Regions from separate parts of the Homo sapiens genome. Here region 2 is linked to region 1. The links come from fine-mapping of genetic effects on gene expression. A gene starts in region 1. The other region holds a variant in brackets. All regions are shown on one strand. Distances are from middle to middle. Region 1 holds the start of RIMKLB (ribosomal modification protein rimK like family member B). Region 2 overlaps MFAP5 (microfibril associated protein 5).

What was found. PIP is the estimated chance that this variant, and not a neighbour inherited with it, causes the effect.
Region 2: its variant is fine-mapped to the expression of RIMKLB in whole blood (TOPMed, PIP 0.94).

What each region holds. Positions count from the first base shown.
Region 1 is chr12:8,694,121-8,702,455 of GRCh38, forward strand. It overlaps RIMKLB (ribosomal modification protein rimK like family member B), which reads left to right and starts at 3,871. Exons shown (of 6, transcript NM_001297776.2): 1 at 3,871-4,177. RefSeq lists silencers at 3,676-3,775, 4,306-4,475 and an enhancer at 3,700-4,666.
Region 2 is chr12:8,644,242-8,652,576 of GRCh38, forward strand. It overlaps MFAP5 (microfibril associated protein 5), which reads right to left. Exons shown (of 10, transcript NM_003480.4): 7 at 7,421-7,450; 8 at 6,261-6,348; 9 at 5,260-5,333; 10 at 1,702-3,962. The coding sequence ends at 3,850. Among named protein-coding and RNA genes, the nearest start is that of MFAP5, 14 kb to the right of the region's middle. RefSeq lists enhancers at 478-1,000, 642-701, 3,636-4,835. The variant A/G (reference allele first, on the strand shown) is at 3,729.

The DNA.
Region 1 (8,335 bases):
TAATCAGGAGGCTGAGGCAGGAGAATCACTTGAACCTGGGAGGTGGAGGTTGCAGTGAGCCAAGATCTCACCACTGCACTCCAGCCAGGGCAACAGAGCCAGACTCCGTCTCAAAAAACAAAACAAAAAACAATAAAAATAGAGACAGGCTCTCCCTGTGTTGCCCAGGCTGGTCTTGGACTCGTGTATTCAAGCGATCCTGTTGTCTCAGCCTCCCAAACTGCTGGGATTACAGGTGTGAGCCATCACACTCAACATCCTGTTGAATTTTTTTTCTTTTTTTTTTTTTTTTTGAGATGGAGTACCCATCTGTTGCTCAGGATGGAGTGCACTGGCCCAATGTTGGCTTGCTGCAACCTCCACCCCCAGGTTCAAAAATTCTCCTGCTTCAGCCTCCCCAGTAGCTGGGATTACAGGCAACTGCCACCACGCCCGGCTAATTTTTGTATTTTTAGTAGAGGCAGAGTTTCACCATGTGGGCCAGGCTGGTCTCGAACTCCTGACCTCAGGTGATCCACCTGCCTTGGCCTCCCAAAGTGCTGGGATTACAGGCATGAGCCACCCTGCCCGGTCCCTCCTGTTGATTCTCATGTGTCTAGGAATAAGAGCAAAAATCTGGAAGTGTTTTGGTGCAGGCAAAGGATGAACCCTAACTTCATCTCAAAGACATTACTTACCTATAGAGTTGGTCTTACACTCATAGGGATATGCAATAAATATAACTATTTGTATGATTATCACACATATCTAAACATTGTATAATTTCTCTTTGATTACTATTTGACTGTTTTGGTATCAGTTAGTCTTGAATAATAATAGCTAACATTCACTGAGACTTACTATGTTATGCATTACATTTGAGTTACCTCATTCATCCTTCTATCTTAATAAAGTGGTGCTAATATGATCTTCATTTTGCTGATGAGAAAACTGAGGTTTATGGAAGTTAAGCAACAATCTCATGCTGCTAGTAAATACAGCTAGGATTTCAAATCAGATTGATCTGACTCCAGACATGCTAGGTTACTTATAGTATGTCTTCCCAGGGGATTCAATTGCCGCACCGCCCCGCCCCCCCGCCCCGCCCCGCCCGGCCCCGACACCTCCGAACTTCCTGAAAAATATTAATTCACTGGTTAAAAATGTGTGGTGCATGATTATGTCAAGAAAAACTACTTAAAATATTTTTGAGCAGGTGTTGCTACCCAAAGGAGATGTGAGTCCACAGCCGCCTAAACATATCAACCATGAATTCTCAAAGATTATGACTGAATGTATGTACAGCCTTTCTGAACCTTGGGTTTCCAATATGGAAATGGTGTAAATAATTTTTGCCCCCTTATTACTTCATATAAAAAGTATGATGTATGAATTTGATCATTACTCACATAAACATTATCTTAACAATATCATGATAATGGTAATGTGTTTAAGCCTTATCATTGGCTTTTTTTAAATACCCTCCTGAGCTTTGTTTTACTCCCTATTAGCTTAAGTCAAAAGCAACGTTGTTACATACATGAGAATATCTTAGAATGTGTATGGCACATAGAAGCAATAAATTGAATAGCAACTTTTTTTTTTTTTTTTTTTGAGACAGAGTTTTGCTCTTGTTGCCCAGGCTGGAGTGCAATGGCACCATCTCGGCCTGAAACCTCCACCTCCCAGGTTCAAGCGATTCTCCTGCCTCAGCCTCCTGAGTAGCTGGGATTACAGGCGTGCGCTATCACGCCTGGCTAATTTTGTATTTTTAGTAGAGACAAGGTTTCTCTATGCTGGTCAGGCTGGTCCAAAACTCCCGACCTCAGGTGATTCGCCTGCCTCAGCCTCCCAAAGTGCTGGGATTACAGGCGTGAGCCACCGCGCCCTGCCCTGAATAACAACTTTTAAGGGCAAGTGGCAAGTGAGTTAATAGTCATACTTCCTATCCTCAGTTTCACCAGTACAACCCACTTTTTCTGGGGATGCAGTTACCACGAATTGGATTCCTTAAGAGTGGGACTGAAGGAATAGGTTAATTAAATATTATTATTGATCCTCTGTACATTTTTTTCCCTGTGTCAATTTCACTGTGTTTATTTTGTCAGATTTTCAGTGTTAGTATCTCTGTGCTCAAGCTTCCCTTGATCACAAAATGCTTCTCTTGGTCTTGGAGTTGAATATACTTTATGTCCCAGGGGGCTGAATATCAGAGTGGAAGTAAATAGCAACAATTTAGTTCTGTAGACCTTATCCCCTTTGTTCTCAAGATAGTGTATCTATCTTATAGGGCGTTTGTTCCTCTAAATTTTGTAAACCAACTAGACGCCTATCCTAGGTTACTCTCACTGACCTAACATTATAATAGCACTAAACACTTTGAACAGCACTTGATCTGTGTCAGCTGTTAAATATTATATACTTATTAACTCATTTACTCCTTATGACAACTCCATGAAGTAGGTGACTATTTTTATCCTCACTTTTACAGCTCAGCAGATAAAGATACAGAGAGGTTAAGTTACTGCAGAGGTTCACATAGGGAGTGGAACCATAAATCCAATCCGGGCAGTCTGGATCCAGAAGTTACCACCCTGGGTTATGCTACATCTTTTAAAGGACTCTCGAGACGCTGAAGGAAATTAGTCAAAAAATTTTTTAAAAGCAGAAAATGAAATTATATTGTCAATTGACTGGGAGAGGAGCAGTGAAAAGTTGTTGGCTGAGGTCACTGAGACAGGGCTGAGACCAGCAAGAAGGCAAACTGGTGAGCACATTACCGTACCTCACACCTGGTGTCTCTGGTGACTGAAGTTATTTGGAAGTGAATCTTCCATGTAAACCTGGGAGGTCGTCTGTAGCCCTTTTTTTTTCTCCTTAAGAAAATGTAATAGCGTAGTTGAACATTCATATTCTTAGCCTCCTTTGGGCTATACTTTTATTTTTTATACATAGTTTTAGAATTTACAAAATGCTCTTAAAATATCTCATTTCATTCTCACAACGACTCCGGACTGTACTCTTTTATCTTTTCACAACAAAGGCTCAGAGGAAGCGTAGCAACTAACTTGTCCAAGGTTTACGCCGGTTTCTAGGGGGCAGAGCTGGCGCTATCCACCCCGCCTGTATCTCCAAACCCGCTTCAGCCAGGAAATTTATCATGTGGTTTTAAATTTGCCTCTCAATATACAGAGGTACTGTCTTTACTCCAGTCCCGGATAAAGACCTTCTAGGTATGAATGATCTTTGTCTCCATATCTTTGCCTACCGGAGGGAGGAACCACCGTAAGCGGAGACTCCGGGCGGCGGCCGGCGGAAGGGCTGGGCGGGAGGCGTCGGGATGCCGGCAGGACCCTGCGCCCGAGGGGGTAGGGGGCTCGTGTCGGGGTTCCAGGCGCAGATTGATGGGGCCTAAGCAGGGAATGTGAGGGCGGGGAGGGCGTACAACGGAAGGGACTAATCTCGCGGTTTCGAGTTGGGAGCAAACCTCGCCCCCCACCCCCCCCATCCGTTTCCCTTTCTCAGTGAAGACGGTTTGGGGGCGGGTGGGGAGGCGCGTCCTCGGAGCGCCCTCGCGCTCCCTTTTCGCTCCCCGCGCGCGATCCATCGCCTCTCTTCCCCCGAGGCCAGCGATGGCTCGGGTGCGGGCGAGGAGCTGGGAGGGCGGCTCTCGACGCAGGTGTCAGATCCGCTCGGCAGTGCTCGGCGCGCTGGCCCGGCCCCCAGCTCCTCCGGCCGCCGCCCCCCGCCCGCCGCGCCGCGGCGCCAGGAGGGCGGGGCCGGGGCGCGCGCCGCTCCTCAGCAAGCGGGCGGGCGGCGTTCGGTCTGAGGGAGCGGGGCGGTCTCCGCCGGCGTCGCGCGCGCTGTGTGTGAGCGGGGTCGCGCGCGCGCGCGGCAGGCGAGTGAGGGAACGAGGAGCGGCCGGGTGTGAGTGTGTGGGAGTGAGAGTGTGTGGGAGTGGGGTGAGGGAGAAGCTGACGGGACGCGAGGCTGTGAGAAACTGGGCGAGTGTGCGAGGACGCCCGGCCAGCCTGCGGGAGCCGCAGTCGGCGGAGGAGAAAGGAGGCGGCTCCCGGTATCCCGACCCCCTCCCCCTCCTCTCCTTCCCCCACTTCCAGCCGCCCGGCGGCCCGCGCTTCCTCGAAGGCCCCAGCCCGGCTCAGTCGGCCGAGAGCGAGGGAGGAGCCCCCCGACCCAGGTGAGCGGTACGACCGCTGTTGCCCTCGGGTGTAGAGCAGTGAGGCGAAGGCGCGCCCTCCCGAGTGGGCGAGTTCAGCGGAATGGATCCCCCGATTAGCGGGGGCTGGGCCGGGGAGGGGACCGGCCCGAGCGCGCCCGGGGTCCGGGGCTAGTTGAGGCCGGTGGTCGCCGCTCCGCGGAGTCGGTGGGGAGCGAGGCGGGGCCCGGCCTTCGCGCGTGTGCCGGGAGGCGCCGGCCCGTGGCGTGTGCGTGCGACCGGGCGAGCCGTGTCGAGGGGGCGGCGACTTCGGGCGTGTAAGGAGTATGGTTTCCCCGCCGGCGAGGGGGTGTGGTAACCCCGGGAACGCCGGCTGGAGTCGGACCCGCGGGCTGCTGACCTGTCCTCGGGATTGCGGCGACACTCCCCCTCCCCCCCCTTCCCACAAATTCTATGGAGCGACCGCGGGAGGAGGATCACGTGGTGCGGTCCCGCAGCTACTGTATTCGATTCCACGTTTTCCTCCTTACGTGTAAATTTTAGAGAGTGTGACAGTCATTCCATCTTTTCCTTTGACAGTCTCTGAATGAGAAGGGGATGACCAAATAATTGCTTGTCCAGTTTTGATTCTTTAAAAATTTGAGCATGATGTAAATATTACACTACTTGCCCCTCACCCCCCCCCAAAAAAAACCCAAACCAGAGTGGTAATAATTTCAATCTCCCCTTATTAATATGTCCTTATCTCTGATCACACATTTGTTATTTCACTGTTTTATCCCATTTGTATTGGCGAATAGCGATGGGGTGGTAATTCTGTTCTGTGAGGGGTTATTGCACTAACCATGCTCAATGCAACTGCTATGTAAATTCTTTCAGTATGCTGTCATTTTCCCATTAGTTATATATATTGTTACCACATCTTTGTGGAGTTAGGTTCAACTCTAAATAGGTATAGAAAGTATATGGGCAGCCTACTATGCAGATTTTTTTTTGTGGGCTTGGTATGTTCATTATATTTATGGGTGTTCTTAATTATTAACTATAACCATTTAAATTGAAATGTTTTTAAATCTCATTTTTGTTACTTTCACAATATTGGGTACCTTAAAGGTCATTTCTTCTATTTTAAAAAATGATTTCTTAAAAGCAATTATGAGAATACTTTTAAGATATTCATTTGGAATAAAACACTCTCTGAAATTCCGGTCTCAGAGATTTAACATTTATTTCCTAAATTTTAGTATGCAACCCTCTAATTTTAAAAATAATCATAGTTAAATTTCTTTTCCAATGGTTACTGTTTTATTTGGTTAGTGTGTCAAAGGGGAGGAGGCCTATTTTGTCTTGAGGTAATCCTATTTTATTCTTTTCTATCTTGGTTAGTGCTGTTAATTTCCTTCTTTCATGTCATTGATTTAGTTGTTAGTTTGGCAACATGGCTGTTGATGTTTTTTATCTTTCTCTGTCTCCCTTTTTTCTCTCTTGTCTTCTCTTACCCCTACCAGGTGCTGGAGTCTGCTTGTCAGGGAGGGGGGCAGTCTGTGATTCTGAGAACAGAGCCAAGAAGGGGAACAGCAAATTCAGTCACAGACAATCCTCCACTCGGTCAAGAGCCACTTTTCTCTTCCTGCCTTGCCCCCCCGCAGGGGGTAAGGAACTGAGCGTTTAATCTTTAGCCGGTTGGCTACCAGCTAAAATTCTACTTATCTTAGTTTCTAGTGGATAGCTTTCTTATTTTGCCCATGTTTTCTTAGAATCCCTGTTTAATATACTTTTGTCAGTAGTAGTATCTAGGAGTAGCAGGGAGAGTGACAATAAATTAGCCCCTTCTTTTTTCCCTTGTCATTCAGGCCCCTTTTCCTCTCCAGAGGGAAATTACCAGTAAACTCTTCTAAATCTTCCACCCCTTCTCAGTCATACTGTGAAGAAACACACTAAAGTGGACATTATTTGACCAGTGAACACGAACCCAGCTTCAGGCATTGGTTTGTTGTGGCACATGGAGAAACATCTCTTTTAAAATATCTCCCAATTACCCTTTTCACAATTTGTATCCACCTAGGATTTGCTGCTGGGGTAAGTCACTAGATTTATTTCTCAAAGCTCCCCTCTCTATGAGCTGAAAGACTGACCAACCATGAACACTAGTAGGGGATGGGGAAAGGGGACAGAGCAGAGCCAGTTGTTCCACACTTTGGGAAGCAGGAGTAGCTTTTATCATCTTCCTCTGGGGAGCAGGCATAGAGACATAAACTGAGTGAAAATGGGTGGAGGAAGAACTTCTATACCCACGAACAACATGTGAAGAGAGAGAACCAAACATAAAGTAAGGAGGGTGAGTTTTATTGTATGTTGCTTGCTGACAACTGTTTTGGGGGCGCTTCAGTGATATACATTCATAGAAAGACTTTGTTTTATGGCAGATTAGTTTACAAAGAGTATTCTGCAAGTGGGATTAAGTCACAAGCAAATGAGAAAAGAGCCTCTAGAAATTGTAATTATGTGGCCTGGCGCAGTGGCTCACACCTGTAATCCCAGCACTTTGGGAGGATGAGGCAAGCTGATCACTTGAGGTCAGGAGTTTGAAACCAGCCTGGCCAACATGGCGAAACCCTGTCTCTGTGAAAAATATAAAAAGTAGCTGGGCATGGTGACGCACACCTGTAGTCACAGCTACTCAGGAGGCTGAGGCACAAGAATCGCTTGAACCTGGGAGGTGGAGGTTGCGGTGAGCCGAAATTTTATCACTGCACTCCAGCTTGGGCAACAGAGCAAGACTGTCTCAAAAAAAAAGAAAAAAGAAACTGTAATACGTTATTAGAATCTGAGGGAGGAGGAGACTGCGATAGTGAAAAAAGTATTATTTTTAAATGTTAGCTGTGCTGATATGTGCAGTTGTTTCAAGAGGTTGAGTAGGGAGATTACGTACAGATGTTGGAAATTGTCTCTTAATTGTCTCGGAATTTTCTGCTTGTCATATGAGGGATTGTTAAATAAGATAGTACCTCCAAAAGTATCTACGTAATACATTTTAGATTTATATGCCATATGTATCTGTGTACATGTTAGGTTTGTAGAAAAGTACTGACTTTCTGGCTTCATGGTAACTAATGCCATGGTGTTATTTTTAATGTTTTCTTTTTCAGTGTTTTTTTTTTCCCCTCTCAAAATTGGCTTGGAGGACAAAAGCCACAGAGCTAGCCAGCTCTACTCCCCTAGAGGCTGGTCTGCATGGAACCCATCTGTTTATATCTTTTTTCTTCTTTCTGAAATTATGTTTTTGTTTTTTTTCTAACTTTGTTAACAAAGCTAATCATTTCTGGATCAGTTATATGACCGTTATGGGAAGTAAGCACAGGCCTGATCTCTTTTTTTTTTTTTTTTTAAGAGAACCCGAAAACATTAATTAGGAATTTTGGATAGCTACATTTAGATTTTACAGGGGCCAGGTGCGGTGGCTCACACCTGTAATCCCAGCACTTTGGGAGGCTGAGGCAGGCGGATCACTTGAGGTCAGGAGTTTGAGACCAGCCTGGCCAAAATGGCAAAACCCCATCTCTACTAAAAATACAAAAATTAGCCAGGTGTGGTGGTGTGCGTCTGTAATCTCAGCTACTCGGGGGGGCTGAGGCAGGAGAATTGCATTAACCCTGGAGGCAGAGGTTGCAGTGAGCTTAGACTGTACCACTGCACTCAAGTCTGGGTCAAAGAGCAAGACTCCATCTCAATAAAAAAAAAAAAAATAGATCTTATGGGGACACCCATTTGCCTGGTATTTAATATTAAAATAGCTATGATTTTTTGATACTCTCTTACAATTTGATATAGCAGATTATTAAAATATGTTCTGTTCCATAACTTGTCAGTGTTACATGTCAGGTTATGCATTTCCCACTGGGGATAACATCAGGGAATAAAATGGTTGTCGGTTCTTTCTTCATGGAGTTTACAGACTAATTTTGGTAATCTCTGTATTTTTTATCTGTCTATCAGTTATCCGAGCAGTGTCTGAAGGAGTCTACTGGATTCTTAGGAAATGCGTACTAATTTGTGAATTGATGAGCTGGCAAAACAAAAATCTGTTTAAACATTTACATGCCTGATTAATTTTACTACCTTTTATTTCAAAAGTGTCTATATCAAGTTGTGACAAAACAGATTCAAACTTGTTCCTTT
Region 2 (8,335 bases), 50 kb before region 1:
GGTAGAGAAAAGAACTGCAAGACCCAAGGGTTAGGAATAAACTAGAACCTTACTCTAAGTGATTGGACAAGTTGAAAAATAACACCAAATCATTATCAGCTATTAAAAAAAAATGAGGGTTTGAGGTAAAGTGAAGTTCGATTTGTCAACAGGAAGCTGTGGGCTCTGCACCTCTATTTATATAAACATTTGCTTTTTCCATCTTGGGTTCTGCCCAGAATTTGTCGTCTGACTGCTGCTTCTGGGTCTGCTTGACTGGTTTTTAGAGAAAAAAAGAAAGAAAGAAAGAAAGAAAGAAAACAAAACTGTGGCCACCTGTTCCTCTCCTTACCGCAGTCTTAACAAGTCACTTTCCCTGATGTTTGGTTGGTGAAAATGCTCAAAGATACAAGGGCTTCCGTTTTTATCAGAGTATTGCTTTATTAAGTAAGGCCTCCCTGAGCTGACAAAGCTACAAGGACAGTCCTGCCTCTCCTCCACTGTGCTCCTGATGTCTTTCTGTTTTACCCTAAGTTTCCAGATCCCCCAGGACCCCTTCCCCACTTCTCAAATTCCCTTTGAATTTGGAATTTGACAGTTTCCATCTTTTAGCTTCCTGGCTCCCCAACCCTGGTGTCAGCCTGTTGTCACTCTCTCATCTGGCTATCCCCTGGTCTGGTGCCATCTTTGTTCCCACTTCTTTTAGGATTGTTTTCCTTCTTCATTGTGTTACAGCTGCTTCAGTACAAAAGGAAGAGGGATCTTAGAGGTTGTTTGTGCCTTCTCACCAGGTGTAAAGTGGTTAGTTAAACATCTAACTTTGGCCACAAGTACCCTGAAGCAGAGAAGGGAGGAGCTTGTGTCTAGCAACATATACTGCTGTATATGTCATCAAAGTAAGACTCAGAAATTGGGAAACCAGCTGCGGTTTGCACTCTCTGCCATGAGTCAAAACAATACTGAGTGTGCATAGAACTGTATTTAGTGAGTAGAAGACACACTCAAATTTCCAGAATGTGTTCATTTGAGGAGAAAGTAGAATTTTCTTGAATCGTAAGCATGGAATATGGAAAAAGCCTCAGAGTAGAATCAACTCAATTAGAGAAGGGAAAATAAAAGTGAATCTTTATGAATAGGTAGATGAGGCTGCTATCTATTCAGGATACCAGGAGGGCATTCAATATCTACTGATATTTTTACCAAATTCTTTAATTCTAACATTAAAGATCCATTATTTTGGTTTAAAAAATGGCTTTTCATTGAAAGCCATTGCTTAGCAAGGTTGTCATTTGGGCTCACCAGGAAAAAAAATATATTAACACCTTAATGAGTAAAAACTTTCTTCTGAATCTTCTTTTATTTTTTGAGACGGAATTTCACTGTTGTTGCCCAGGCTGGAGTGCAGTGGCATGATCTTGGCTCATTGCAACCTCCACCTCCCTGATTCAAGCGATTCTCTTGCCTCAGCCTCCCGAGTAGCTGGGATTACAGGCACCCGCCACCATGCCTGGGTAATTTTTTTGTATCTTTCTTAGAGACAGGGTTTTATCATGTTGGCCAGGCTGGTCTCAAACTCCTGACCTCAGGTGATCCGCCCACCTCAGCCTCCAAAAGTGCTGGGATTACAGGCGTGAGCCACCACGCCCGGCTGATACACATTTTTTAAAGTGGAATAAAAGTTCATAAATTCAGGCCTTTTTCGTAAACATAGAAGAGAAAAAGAACCAGAACAAAAGACATTTTATTTTGAGAAATAAATTGGAAAAAAATATTTTAAAATGTTTAATTTGCAATATACATAATACTGGAATTGAAATGCTGTCTGATGGAAATGTTGCAATGTGGAGTAGGAGGGTCAAGTTCGTGAAGATATTCTTAAAATTAATCTTGGAAACTCTGTGCCTATGAGGTTTCTCTAAAGTGGCTAAAATATGCATTTAATATGTTGTCTAAATGAGTACATTTAATTCTAGAGACTGTAAGGAGTAGAGATTATATGCTTTGGGGCTTTTTGTAGCATTTTTTTAAAATCAGTTGTACAGATCCCATTAAACGAAATTGTTTCTTAACAGCAAGAATCTGATCATTTAACTAGTTTTCTCAGCAATATAAAAGGAATACAACCTCCACTGTCATATATAACTTGTTGTCTCCTAGCTCCTATTTGAATTCCATTGGCTTTTATAGAAAGTTATTGAGTTAGTCAGACAGAAGGATTCATGATATATAATTTGTCATTTGTTATAATGGGATTTTCTTCTATTCCATTGTGGACTGCTACCCTCACCTAGGATAAAGCAGATATGGTTGCTATGAATTAGACTGTATCTAAGCTTCAAGAAATATGAATAATGCATTTAAATCCAGAGAATCATAGAATTAAAGGAAATCTTAGAACTAAGAATATATATAATATATATATATATTTCTTAAGATGGACTTTTGCTTTTGTCACCCAGGCTGGAGTGCAATGGCGCCATCTCGGCTCACTGCAACCTCTGCCTCCCAGGTTCAATTGATTCTCCTGCCTCAGCCTCCCGAGTAGCTGGGATTACAGGCACGTGCCACCACGCCCAGCTAATTTTTGTATTTTTAGTAGAGATGGGGTTTCACCATGTTGGCCAGGCTCGTCTCAAATTTCTGACCTCAAGTGATCCACCCGCCTCAGCTTCCCAAAGTGCTCAGATTACAGGCATGAGCCACTGCGCCCAGCAGTACTAAGATAAATTTAACCTTCTCATTTTAAAGATGAGGAAATTAAACCAGGACCTAATGAAGGAAAATGGCTTATCCAAGGCTACGTGGTTACTGCTAGAGCCAGGATAAGAATGTGGGTTGTCTGAATATTGTGTTTCTTTCACTCTTTCGTATTAACTATTAGGCAAACTTTCTGTCTGCCTATTAAAATTCAAGTCTGAATGCCCTTCTTAGGCCCCAATCAGGATATCCAAAAGCCACTTGCACAATAATTCGACCGTGCACTTGTTAAGTTGTGAAGATGAACGAAGTAGCAACTCAAGGAAACGTCAACCAATGGTATGATTTCACATTAAGTTGTCTAATTTGCTTTGTGGTGGTGGGTTCATCCCGGTACTACCCATAAACGAATCAGTAAATGAGACTTAGTTTCCAACCTTACTTCCCGACTAGACAACTGCATGAAAAATTGGATAGCGAATTATGAGTCCAAGTTCTATAGCTGGCATAGTCCTCATGCTTTAGCCCCAGCCTCTGAGCTTAGCAGAAGACATTTTGGGTCCTTATATATTGCTAGTAGGATTGTATAATTCTTGACTGTGTTGCAGAATCTTACAGGACTACAAAACTTACCATGATGTGTCTTATAAGGAAGACTTGCCAGGCAAATTTTCGGGCAAGCCAGCAAAATAGTTAAAGTAAGAGTAAAGAGGAACACGTGAATGATGGGGAGTTGGTCTAGGAAAATATTGTGAGGAAAATAAATGAAATTCTATGGTTAGCCCAAATAGACAAAGATAGCTTCTTCAACCCTAAGATCTATATCAGACAGATTCAATAGTAAAGATTATTAGCCTAAAGTTTAGTCTCCCTTGAAATTGTACATAGAATGTTTGTATATAAGCCATATAGTCATCATCTATTCACTGTGTCTATGATATTGAGAAGCAGCAAAATTATGCAATAATATAGACTTTGTATTTTAAGTGCTAGAAAATGAGATAAATGTTATCAGTTTGGGTGAAAAAGTAGAGAGTAGGGGTAAAAGCTGG[A/G]CATTGCAAAAGGATTGGTTTAAGAAATACTGTCTAAGGGTTAGCTGTCAATGGTTGGAGAAGAAGGAGATCCTCCTTCCTCTCACCCATACATTTTTTCTTCTTTCCTCTTTTTCAATGATCACAGACCATTGGGTCTCTGCAAATCCACATTTTCACAGGGAGGAAGTCGGAAGTAATTGGAGCGACGGAGTCTCCTAGGGGGCAGACCAGCCATCTGACGGCAAAGCTCATCTAGAAGAGAAGCAGAACATCATGGGAAGAGAATGCAGAAGATAACAAAGGCTCTTGTTTTAAGGGATAGAGAAGACTTTTCAGTGTGGTGTAGTGAAAAGGTTGGAGAGAAAAAGATCCGGGTTTTAACCAGCTCTGCCACTTACTTTAGTTATTTGCCACTTCCTAGAAAGTTTCTTAAATTTTATAAACCTCACTATCCCTTTCTGTAAAATGAGAATTAAAATACCTACCTCAACAGTATATTTCTGAGTATTAAAATGAAATCATGTATGCAAAGTACCTAGCACAGGTGAGCAGTAAATGTTAGTTTCCTTTATATATCCAGCTGCCAATTCTTCTAATCATGGATCTATTAAATAGAAAAATGAGATCCAATCATTCAGTATACATTTACGTGCTTACTATGGGCAAACAGCTAACTTTAGGAAGTCCCTTGAGATACTTGAAAGTGCCTAGAGTCCCAAATACCCATCCTCAATCTCAAGGTGCTTCCCTTGCAGGTGGCTTGCACAAAGCCAATGGGGGCACACAGCAAGTTTCCTTCTGCGAAGTTAACTACAGCTCTTACTCAGGAACTCAGCACAAAGCGGGCTGCTGAGTCAGAAATGGCTTTGTCTGTGGTGTTTTCACCAACCACAGCCATCGTTCGGGGCTGGCCATGGGGAAGGTGAGAGTATCTTTGTTTCCACCATGTATGGTCTACAACCACACATTTTGGGCCCTCGTAATTGCCCCATAACATCTTTCTACCTTCTTCTACCTGAAATGTCACAGTAAGAAATGTTCATTGTTCTTGGAATTGGTGAACTATTTATAACATAGCTGATTTCTAAATGTCCCATCTATTTTTTATTTATAGGCCCTATCCAAACCTTACTGTCTCCAAATTAGTGCATGTGCGTGTGTATGTTTTATTTTTAGTTATGAACATGGCTGCGGACTAGCAGAGTCTATTATCTGTAATGGCTGACTTGAAATTTTCCCTAGAACCCCAGTGAATGATCTTTAAAATAGCCAGAGTGTCAGAAAGCTCTCTAAGTAGGAGACACTGTGGGGTTACAATCTAGTAGGACAGGGATCTAGGGGTACTTTTCTTAGGGTTATGTTTGTATATCAAGCATACTGCTTTATGTAGATTGTTTATTTGAGATAACTTCCAGCAGGAGCTGATGGACTCTAAGGGGGTAGCCTGAAGCCCTCCTCTAGTACCAGACTTTGGATATAGTAATATCATGTCCCTATCTACCCTTCTCATAACTGCTTCTCTCCATTAAACATCCAGACATCATCTTACCTTTCATAGCTTCGTGTTCCTTACAGACAAGACGAGAGCAGATCTCCTTGTTGACGATGTACATACGTCGTAAACTGCAGACGTCCCAGTGTCATAGGCAAGGAAGGAGATGGAAGAAAGCCTTGAGAGGAGAACTCACCTGGGTCTGGGATGCCTCTTCAACTCTCATATTCCCCACTTTCCCTATCTGCTTTTCCCCAACTGTATTTTCTTAAGTATTTCAGACTTTTGCCCCCCAACTGGAAAATAGGGGAGGGAATGGTATTAATTACTCTTCTGTTTTTTAAATTTTATTTCAATAGTTTTTGGTGTACAGGTGGTTTTTGGTTACATGGATAAGTTCTTTAGTGGTGATTTCTGAGATTTGGGTGCACCCGTCACCCAAGCAGTGTACACCGTACCCAATGTGTAGCCTTTATCCCTCATTCCTCTCCCACTCTTTCCCCTGAGTCCCCAAAGTCCATTATATCATTCTTATGTTTTTGCCTCCTCATAGCTTAGCTCCCACTTATAAGCGAGAACATACAATATTTGGTTTTTCATTGTTTAGTTACTTCATTTAGAATAATGACCTCCAGCTCCATCCAAGTTGTTGCAAAGGCCATTGTTTTAGTTATTCTTCTTAGTGACACTTTGCACACTCTACCTAAAGTCAGGCTTAATATTCCTCCCCACTATTTTCTACCTTAGAGCTGGGCCATTCTCTTCAGTCTCCTTCTATCAGGTAATAAATTGAGCATGCCAGTATTTCCCTCATGACCCTTCTTCCTCCAGCGCCCACCTTCATTTCCCTTCTAAGTTCTATTACTCTGCCTGTTCTTTGTACACTTCAGCCCATACTCCAGGTTCTAGTTGGTACATTCAGCAATAACTAGGAGGGTTGTGCTAAAAACTTTGGCCCCATCAAAGTTTGCAATTCCATAGTGGGTGCTCATTAAATAGTTATCAACACAGAAACACTACCATGGAAGATGCTTTTTGGGCATTCTGGGATCCCTTACCTGGTGAAGCATAACTGATGAATGCATTGTTTAACCGGCCGATGCACAGAGTAGAGCCTTGTGCAGGTAAATTTCTCATCCCAGCACTCTGAGGAAGCCCAATACAAAAAAATAAGGAGGTCCAAATAGAAGCAGCATAAATGAAGGATTGAAGGAATTGGGAAGGATAGATAGAGTAGGAAAAAAATACAGAGTAATCTCTACAGAGAATCATTATAAATTGGGCTACATCCTTTCCGTCCACCAAAAACACAGCAAGAGGGAATTGACTAAATGAAGTTTTGGCGCTTCCCTACTTGGAAGTAGAAGTGGATAAAATAATCTCTGAGAGCACTTCTAGGAATAAAGTCTTTCTAGAATTGTCCGTTATGAAATATAAAATAGGCTGGGCACGGTGGCTCATGCTTGTAATTCCAGCACTTTGCGGGGACGAGGCGGGCAGATCACCTGAAGTCAGGAGTTCGAGACCAGCCTGGCCAACAAGGTAAAACCCCGTCTCTACTGAAAATACAAAAATTAGCCAGGAGTGGTGGCAGTTGCCTGTAATCTCAGCTACTCGGGAGGCTGAGGCGGGAGAATCACTTCAACCTGGGAGGCGGAGGTTGCAGTGAGCCAAGATCACGCCACTGCACTCCAGCCTGGGTGACAGAGTGAGACTCCATCTCAGAAAAATAAAATAAAATAAAACAAAATAGTAAAATAAAATAGAAATGCTGATAATCCCATTCTGAAAGAATCAGATTTCTTAGGCAGGTTGCTATTTCTCTGTTCCAGTAGTTTTCAACCCTAGCTATATATCAGAATTATCAGTACATTAGGAAATGCAATTTTAACCATGGCCTCCGTGGTAATATGGAGTCCTTGAAGTTAAATTGATTTCACTTCCCAATCCACTAACCACCACATAATGTGCAAGGGTACTTTAGGGAGAGGGCTATTTGGGGACCATGCAACATTTGTTCCATTCTTTCCCCTTGACTTTTATGACAGGTGCTCATTTTTTTAAAAAAAAGAGTAAGGGAGTGAAGAACACTAATACTCTTTGAGAAATAATTGGAAGTAAACTAGAAGATGTGCCAAGTACCCTCCAAAGAACAAGGAGGTAAGGAATCCACAGGAAGAAAAAAAGGCTTAAGAAGGCATGCAAGCAACAATCATACCTGCAGTGGTATTTTTTTCACTGAGGGAGGCTGAAAGGCAGAAATTTTATTCCACTGTTACCAATTCTAGAAGTTACTACTTCTGTAACTGCCACACTGCCTCACTTAGGACCTGCTTGGAGTGCCCATAAATAGGGAGCAAATGAATTAATAACTCTTAGCAACTTCTAAAAGAAAACCCTTATTGAGCTGATTTGCTCCACAAAATTGAAGACATTAGGAGGCAGGATGGGATTTTTTTCCTTTCTCCTTTCCTTTCTAAAGAGTTGAGAAATTCATTGTATTGTGAGTATCTCTGTATTGTTGACAAGAAGCAAATTTAGTAGGAACACAAGGCAAAGAGTTACATGCCCAGAGGAGCTTCTTCCTAGAGCTAAGCAGAGAAAAGATTATTATCCTGTACAAGCTCTTCCTTATAAGAGAAAATTTATTTTCTGTAGATTAGATACATCATCATAAATTCTCTTGATAGAAGCTGTTGGGTAAAGAATAATGAGGGTCAGCTGGGCACAATGGCTCACACCTGTAATCCCAGCACTTTGGGAGGCCAAGGCAGGTAGATTATTTGAGGTCAGGAGTTTGAGACCAGCCTGGCCAACATGGTGAAACCCCCTCTCTACTAAAAATACAAAACTTAGTTGGGTGTAGTGATGTGCACCTGTAATCCCAGCTACTCAGGAGGCTGAGGCAGGAGAATCACTTGAACCTGGGAGGCAGAGGCTGCAGTGAGCCAAGATCGTACCATTGCACTCCAGCCTAGGTGACAGAGGGAGACTCCATCTCAAAATAAATAAATAAATAAATAAATAAATAAATAAAGAATAATGAGAGTCATCCTAACCTAGGGGCAAATTTAACATGGGCCTTATTCACAGAATGAAGAACAAGCCAAGGAGTTAGATGAATAGACTAGTC